Linked DNA regions of Homo sapiens: region 1 is linked to region 2. Evidence: fine-mapped QTL for protein levels in blood plasma. A gene starts in region 2. The other region holds a variant in brackets. All regions are shown on one strand. Distances are between the middles of the regions.

What was found. PIP is the chance, under the fine-mapping model, that this variant and not a neighbour inherited with it causes the effect. The UK Biobank Pharma Proteomics Project read protein levels with antibody pairs (Olink). The fine-mapping took linkage between variants from a reference panel, not from the people measured, so its PIPs are less certain.
Region 1: its variant is fine-mapped to the plasma level of the ELN protein (UK Biobank, PIP above 0.99). The variant lies in the coding sequence of ELN. If it changes the protein, the assay may bind it differently, which can mimic a change of level.

The regions. Positions count from the first base shown.
Region 1 is chr7:74,060,240-74,062,946 of GRCh38, forward strand. It overlaps ELN (elastin), which reads left to right. Exons shown (of 33, transcript NM_000501.4): 25 at 137-262; 26 at 862-900. It overlaps ELN-AS1 (ELN antisense RNA 1), which reads right to left and starts at 2,041. Exons shown (of 2, transcript NR_183555.1): 1 at 1,971-2,041. RefSeq lists enhancers at 1,375-1,875, 1,876-2,376, 1,920-2,214 and a silencer at 2,017-2,209. The variant G/C (reference allele first, on the strand shown) is at 256.
Region 2 is chr7:74,025,418-74,030,922 of GRCh38, forward strand. ELN (elastin) reads left to right here and starts at 2,756. Exons shown (of 33, transcript NM_000501.4): 1 at 2,756-2,852. The coding sequence starts at 2,771. RefSeq lists enhancers at 1,167-2,139, 3,112-4,083.

The sequences.
Region 1 (2,707 bases), 33 kb after region 2:
GGGCAACAGCCAGGGAGGAGGCCGCTGCTTGGATCTGGGCCCCTTCCTCTGGGACTAGGCTCAGCTCCCTGGGCAGGACACCTCCTTAGGGGCATGCTCCCTGCCTGCTGTCGCCACCACTGCCCTCTGTCTGCAGGAGCTGCAGCTGGGCTTGGTGCTGGCATCCCTGGACTTGGAGTTGGTGTCGGCGTCCCTGGACTTGGAGTTGGTGCTGGTGTTCCTGGACTTGGAGTTGGTGCTGGTGTTCCTGGCTTC[G/C]GGGCAGGTGCAGATGAGGGAGTTAGGCGGAGCCTGTCCCCTGAGCTCAGGGAAGGAGATCCCTCCTCCTCTCAGCACCTCCCCAGCACCCCCTCATCACCCAGGGGTGCATAGTAAAATCCTTGTTAGGTTCTCCTAAGCATCTGGGGGTAACAGATAGCGGGAGGAGGGCAGACCAGGCCAAGGGACCCCAGGCTGCCCAATTGCAGAGTATCTGCCTCCTCAGTAGAGGGGTGGCAGGGCTCCAGACTGAGAAAAAGCCTGCCCTCCAACCAGGGAAGGAGCAGGTAGATCAGCCTGGCTCCCCTTCAGCAGTGCTCTGTGGCCAGGGGACCACTAGGAACTCCAGTTCTTCACCAGCTGGTGACTGAGCCCCACTCTGTGCCCAGCCTCAGGCAGTCCATGCTAGGCCTGGGGAGAGAAGGAAGGGGCAGACGGAAGGTGGAGGCACTGTTCAGCCCTAAAGCTCTGTGCCTGTACAGCTTCAGGGCTTTGAGGAAGCAATAGAGGCCAAGGAAGTCAGGGAGGGCTCTCTAGAGGAGGCGGCAGAACTCCCAGGCACAGAGCTCGGCTCCTGACCACTCCCCAACTTTTCTTTCTCCCCAGTACCTGGAGCCCTGGCTGCCGCTAAAGCAGCCAAATATGGTGAGTGCACCCCACAACCACTTGTGGCTCCCTTGCCACCACACCATCCCTGACAGCACAGGACTGGGGTGGTCACAATAGAAAAAGGCAGTTTCGGCCGGGCGTGGTGGCTCACACCTGTAATCCCAGCACTTTGGGAGGCCGAGGCAGGCAGATCACCTGAGGTCAGGAGTTCCAGACCAGCCTGAACAATATGGTTAAACCCCATCTCTACTAAAAATTCAAAAATTAGCCAGGCGTGGTGGCGGGCACCTGTAATCCCAGCACTTTGGGAGGCCGAGGTGGGCAGATCAACTGAGGTCGGGGGTTCCAGACCAGCCTGACCAATATGGTGAAACCCCATCTCTACTAAAAACACAAAAATTAGCCAGGTGTGGTGGCGGGCACCTGTAATCCCAGCTACTCGGGAGGCTGAGGCAGGAGAATCGCTTGAACCCAGGAGATGGAGGTTGCAGTGAGCCGAGATCACGCCACTGCACTCCGGCCTGGACGACAGAGCGAGACTGTATCTCAAAAAAAGAAAAGAAAAGAAAAAGAAAAAGGCAGTTTCTAGGACACGTTTATGACAGTTTAAAAACCTGGCCCCTGCCCACTAAATGCTTATGGTGCCTTCAACCCCTGTGACCACCAAAAACACCCTTGAAATCCCAGTTGCCCCCCAGGAGGCAATTCCACCATCCCTAAGCTTGCCCTGACCCTGACAGTTACATGGTCCCTGTGTCCAGGAAGGGACTGGGCCTGCTGTGGGTATGAGGAGTCTGGGCAGTCTCTGCCTCCACCCCAGCTCTCTGGCCCGAGCAAAGGAGCTGGTATTCCTCATCTGGGCACCCCGGGCCCCCGCCCGCCTTCCTGTCCTGCCAGCAGGACCGCTCCCACCACGAGCCAGCCCAGAGGACGTGGCAGTCCCACAGCCTCTGCACTTGGCGCTCTGGCAGCCCTGCCTGGCCAGACCCACGCTGTCTGTAGCCCCTGAATTCCTGGCCTCCTGTGAGCAGCGTTGGTGGGAGGTGGAAGACTCCCCCAGGGATCCACCAACCAGCCGGGCAGGTCCACTTGGGGCCAGTTTCTACCTCGGAAAATCCTGGCTTCCTCAGCGCCGACCCCCAGCAGCCCTGGCCTCCTCCCCTGCTCACTGCTGACTGCTTGGCAGGCCTGAGTCAACAGACATTGCCAGGGAAACAGAGTGACGTCATGTGGTGGAGCCGCGAAGGGCGCAGGCTCCCCAGCCACTTCCCGTCCCTGAAGCCCTGAGCACACTGCTTAACCTCTGCTCTGCCTCAGCGTTCTCATCTGCAAAATGGGAATGACAATAGTGCCTACCTTTCCTGCTGCAATGCATAAAAAATGGGCTGCTAAGTGTGAAGCACTCAAAATGTTAAGTGCCTGCTGTAGATACTATTACCGTTGTTTGTTTGTTTGTTTGTTTGTTTTGACAGAGTCTTGCTCTGTCGCCCAGGCTGGAATGCAGTGGTACGATCTTGGCTCCCTGCAGCCTCCATCTCCCGGGTTCAAGTGATTCTCCTGCCTCAGCCTTCCAAGTAGCTGGGATTACAGGCGCCCGCCACCACGCCTGGCTAATTTTTGTATTTTTCGTAGAAACAGGGTTTCACCGTGTTGGCCAGGCTGGTCTCAAACTCCTGACCTCAGGTGATCCACTAGCCTCAGCCTCCCAAAGTGCTGGGATTACAGGTGTGAGCCACCGCACCCGGCTTACAAAAGAACTTTTAAGGCCAGGCACAGTGGTTCACACCTTCGGGAGGCTAAGGCAGGAGGATCGCATGAGCCCAGGAGTTGGAGGCTGCAGTGA
Region 2 (5,505 bases):
TGACCTTATTTAGTCATACAGCTAGGCAAGGAGGTGACACTAAGCATTTGAGTACTGATGGGGTCTTGAATGAACAAGTAAATGAATGAATGAATGGATGGTGGCCGATGACTGTCATCTCTAGTTCTTACATTATGTATCTTATGCATCAGACTACACGGCATGGATATTCAGTGCAATGGATTTGATTGTGAATTGAGGCCCCCTTTTGCAATCTTGTTGCATGTTATGTTCGTGGAGCTCCTGCAATGAGCAGAGGCTGCTAAGCAGAAGCAGCGCACAGGCTGGGGGCAGGACACAGGGCCCCCGGCCTCAGGGGAGAGGTCTGTTCCAGCCACCTCAAGTCTATTCCTGTGAGTGCCCCTCCACACCCCTCCTGGATCCCCCCACTGCAAACTCTCTCCCCCTGGCTCCGGACTCTCTCCCCGTCCTGGAATTAATAAAGACTCTGTGCAGACTGCGGTTTGCAAGTCTGAAAGCTGGTTCCTGCCCGTGTCACTGCCTCGAGAAGAGAGGGGTCCAGCTCCCCACAGTAGCCCCTGCCTTCCTCCTTCCCAGGCAGGCGGAGGCACGCAGATATACCATTGACTTCCCCTCCCCTGCAGCAGGCACATCCTGGGCATCGAGCTTCAGACCCTGCCCCTGAGCAGCCCCTAACCCCACCAACAAAGGGTGGCTTGGGGGGGCTTTCACCCCAGCATAATCTCCATCAGCTACCCTCAAAGCACCCCCAAATAAACACACACCGTAAGTAAGAGCTGTACACTGGCTGTGTGCGTACATCTTCAAGACAATTCTCCCAGCATGCCCCTACCTTCCAAAATTCCAGAGCTGCTCCCTCCAAAGACCCAGGGAAAAGGAAGGGTTTGTCCAGGGTCCTGGGGTGGCCCCGTATAGACCAAAGCCTGATAGCTGTCCTAGAAGCAGAGTACTTGCAGAGCGAGTGACGGCAACTGTGGTATTGACACCAGTCCTAGCACCAGCTGAACACAGAGCATTTTTGATCTAGCAGAAATACAAGACCACGTTGTATTTGTCTTTGCAATAATCTCTTAGCTAGGAATACTGATCACCTGTAGACAGATAAGGAAACTGATGCTCTGTGGAGAGGTTTTCCTACCAGAAAGGCTAGAGCCAGAAATTTACTTCTAGGTCCACCAATACCTGCCTTTGACCAATGCCTGCATTTGACCTTTCCACGCTGAGCCACCCCTGCTGGCACTCCAGACTGCCACAGTGCTCCTGCCTCCACAAGGGGTCTTTAACTCATCCCTCGGAGCCATCGTGGTGCAGGGAAAAGCCCACAGGGCGTGTGGCTTCCATGCTGTTCCCTGACTGGCTGTGACCTAGGACAAGGAACAAGTTTCCCTCTCCTATTCTCTAGGTCTCACATTTCTTCTCCTCTAGCAGTAGTGGGAAGTGAGGGGTGGGGGACACGACCCTCCCCTGTTCCATCCCACACTCCAACCCCCAAAATCCCCCAGGGTCCCCGTCCAGCTCAGTCCTGGGGGCAGAAATGCAGAGTTCTCCAGGAACGTGGTCCCAGCTGTTTCAGTGCAGGCCGCCCCCTCCTGGCCACCAGCGGAATGTCAGCCTTCCCAGAGGGGCCGGGAGAACAGCAGTCGAGAAGCTCCCAGACTGGTGTGGGCGCTAGCTGTGCTCAGCGTGGGGATGGGAGGTGACCCAGTGATAATGGGAAGCTGGGCTGCCTGTCAGTCTGCGGGGGGCTCCCACCTCCCTGTTCCCCCACAGGGCACCTGGGGATCCAGCCTGATTTTTACCAGACCCTGCGGCCTGCATGGGGCTGGGTATAGGGCTGTGACCTTGACCCATGCAGAATAGAACCCTGTGTGTCGGGATCCTCCATGTGCTCCAGATGCCCCTGGGGACAGCACCAACATGGCCTTAACTCCCAAGCCATTCCCCTGCCTCTAACCCCCTGGCATCTGCAGGCATCCACCCCAGACCCACCCAACACCTCCTCCCCAGCTTCAGGCGCTAGGCAGAGACCTTGGCCCCTGCAGAATGCAGCCCTGTCCAGGGTCCCCTACCTTCCCCCCAGATCCCTCCCAGAGCAATACCAACCCGGGCCTACCTTCCAGGCCATTCAACCTGCAGCCCCCCGGCCTCTGTAGACATCGCACCCCCCAAACCCCCAGACCTGCCCAATGCCTCCCCTCCCCAGCTTTGGGCAGAACCTGTCTCTAGCCAGACCTGGGGGTGTTGGGGAGTCTGGAGGGCCGGGGTGGGGGCTGAGGCGCGGGACAGCTGGCCCGTATCCTCACACTGGGCCCGGGGCCCAGCCGGAGGGGCGGGGGCCTGGCCACTCGGGCCTTGGCTGGGGCTGGGATTTTTGGCCTGGCCGCCAGGCCCTCCCTTCTGCTTCCTCTCCCGAGGGCTGTCCTGGCAGAGGCCCCCCTCGCTCTTTCTGGCGGGAACAGGGCCAGCAGCGAAAGAACAGTCGCAGAGGGAAAGCGGGAAAGAGATGGGGGAAAGTGTGTGTGTGTGAGTGTGTGCTTGTGTGCATGTGTGTGCGTGTGTGTGTCAAGGAAAAAAGCTCGCAGTCCAGCAGCCCGGGCCTGGGAGGCTTGTGAGCCGGGCCTTTCGTAATTGTCCCCTCCCCGCGGCCCCCTCCCCCAGGCCTCCCCCCTCTCCCGCCCTCCCGCCCGCCCTCTCTCCCTCCCTCTTTCCCTCACAGCCGACGAGGCAACAATTAGGCTTTGGGGATAAAACGAGGTGCGGAGAGCGGGCTGGGGCATTTCTCCCCGAGATGGCGGGTCTGACGGCGGCGGCCCCGCGGCCCGGAGTCCTCCTGCTCCTGCTGTCCATCCTCCACCCCTCTCGGCCTGGAGGTAAGGACCCCTCGCCCCTGTCCCCAGCGCTGCCCACAGCTGCGGGCCCTTTGGGCCAGGTGACTAGACGCTCAAGGGGGAGACCTTCGTCCCTGGGAACTGCAAGGGGTCCCAGGTGGGAGCCCCTCAGCCACTGGGTCCTCGGAACTGCCCCTCCCAGGAGCCAGCCCCGTGCCCAGGAGGAACCTGTCAAAGAGACACCCTCGACTCAGAATAGTCCCAGCCCAGCATCCAGGCTTTGCTGCCCTGCGAGGGCTGAGGGGGCCCCTGCTCAGGTGCCCGGGTGCCCGCCCTGTAGGGGGATCAGAGCATCCTGGGGGAGGGCCCAGCGGGAACCCCTGGGTCTGGAGACACCACAGTCTGCACACCTGTGGACACAGCTGGGGTGCACACCAGCCCTGGGGACAGGGAACCTGGGCTTGATACCAGCTCAACCGCAGTGAGCTGTGTGACCTCAGCAGGTTCCTTGACCCCTGGGAAGCCGGGATCCCCCCGTCAGGAAGGTCAGGGCTCCGCTGAGGATGGGTTTGCAGGTTGGGAAGCTGCTGCTGTGTTCTCCCTGCTGAGGCAGGCAGGGACTCCTGGTATGCATTTGTGTGTGTGTGTGTGTGTGCATGCACACAGGAATGAGCGTGCTGTGTGCTCGTGTGTGTATGTGTGCATGCACAGGTGTGCATGTGTTCAGATGCCCGGCTGTGTCACTGAACAGGGAAAGGGATTTCTGGAGGGGTACATATGTCTGCTCACAGGTTCATCCTTAGGCAGGTGTATGCGTATGTTTGGAGGAGGTATATGAAGCTGCTCCTTAGTGTGTGCAAAAGTCTGCCACCTGACAGACATGTAGACATGTACACATGTAGACATGGGCGATCTGGCATCCAGGTGTGACACTGGTGTGGACTGTCACTGTGTGTGTTATGGAGTGTGTACATCTGTGTGTGTGAATGTGTGTGCGATGTGGCACGCAAGCATGGAAAGGCGGGCTGGAGAAGGTGTCTGTCTCCTGGCAGAGGCAGTGTGGCTGAGACAGAGGCTGGAGTGGATCCTGGGGCACTGCTGGGCCATCTGCTATGTGCCCCAACCCAGGCACAGTTGGTTATGGGGTTTGAGGGTGTGCCCTGTGGGGCTGCTATGCCGCGGCCAACGGGGGAGGACAGAAGAGGCTCCCGGGCATGGGAAAAAGGAGGGCATTTGGTAGGGGGGTCTGGGTGGAGTCTGGTTTCCTCGGGAGTCCTCCTTGCCATGAGAACCAAACGCTGAGTGGGGGGCGGGAGGGCCACGGGGTGGAGTCAAGGGCCTGGGCAGGAGCTGCAGCTGTTTCCGTGAGATTGAACAGCTTCCTGTGCAGGGTCCGCTGCTGGACCTGGATGAGGCCAAGGGACATGGGTACCCACAGGCGGGCCCCAGCAGGGGCAACGAGCCAGGGCCTGAAAGCAGCAGCCCCGGGTCCGTCTCAGCCTCCTCCCCAGGTGTAGCCCCCAAACACCCAGCCACCCTTCTTCCCAGATGGGGCCACCACCTATAGGGTGGCAGTTCATCATCAAGGAACCTTGAGAATTAGAAATTATTATCATCACTTGACAAACAAGGAAGCTGAGGCTCCGGCAGGCTAAGGCAGTCCCCGGGGGTTAGTATCAGCCAGCTCTCTGCCCCAGGTCAAGGGGCAAGGGGGTTAGGAGTGAGCTAGCAGGCAACATTTGGGGAGGGGAAGGCTTGGGGCTGAGTCCTTAAAGCAGGCATGCCCTAGGCAGAATCAGCTCTCTCCTTGTGTCCTCAGTGACACCGCTAAACGCCCAGCTGGCCTCACACTTTGCAGAGATCAATCTCAGCTCTGTCCCAGGTGGCTGGACTTGCTAGGTCCAAATAAGGGGTGTGTGAACTGATGAGCTCGTGTGGGGTTTTGCACAGAAGTGCTACTGAAGTCTGCAGAGGTCGGGGAGCCAACACAGGGAGTGGAGCGCTCAGTCACATGCTCACTGCCACTCACCTGGCTGTCCTGGGGGAGCCTGGCTTCTCCCTCAAGGAGGAGGGTGTCACTTATGCAAGTTCAGCGGCTCCAAGGAAGGAACCCTGTTGCGGGGGTGGGGGAGCAGGAGGAGGGGACAAGCCGCACAGCTCCCAGGCTGTTTCAAAAGTGAGCATGAGAAATTAACCCAGGGATAATTCTTCCCCATCCCCCAGAAATAGTATCAGGGATTTTTTTTTTTTTTTTTCCTGATTTCAGAACTGAAGATGGTTTGGAACAGAGGTTTCCTTTTCTTTTATTTTCCTTTTTTATTTTTATTTTTTTACCTTTTTTATTTTTTTTAAATTGAGACAGGGTCTCGCTGTGTTGTCCAGGCTGGTCTGAATTCCTGGGCTCAAGTGATCCTCCCACCTCCGCCTCCCAAAGTGCTTGGATTACAGGCATGAGCCACTGCCTCTTTTTAAATATTTTTTTAATTATTGTTTTCCGTCCTTAAGTAGGAACAGGGGTTTTCAACCTGGCTATCTATTAGACTTCCCACCCAAGAATCCCTGCTTGCTTTGGTTGGAGAGGGACCTGGACACAGACTTTTCAGGCTTCCCAGGTGACGGTGGGGTCGCCAGGGCCAAGAAGCACTGGTTTAGAGGTCGATCCCGCTCTGTGTGTCTGCCGAGGCCCCGGCATGAG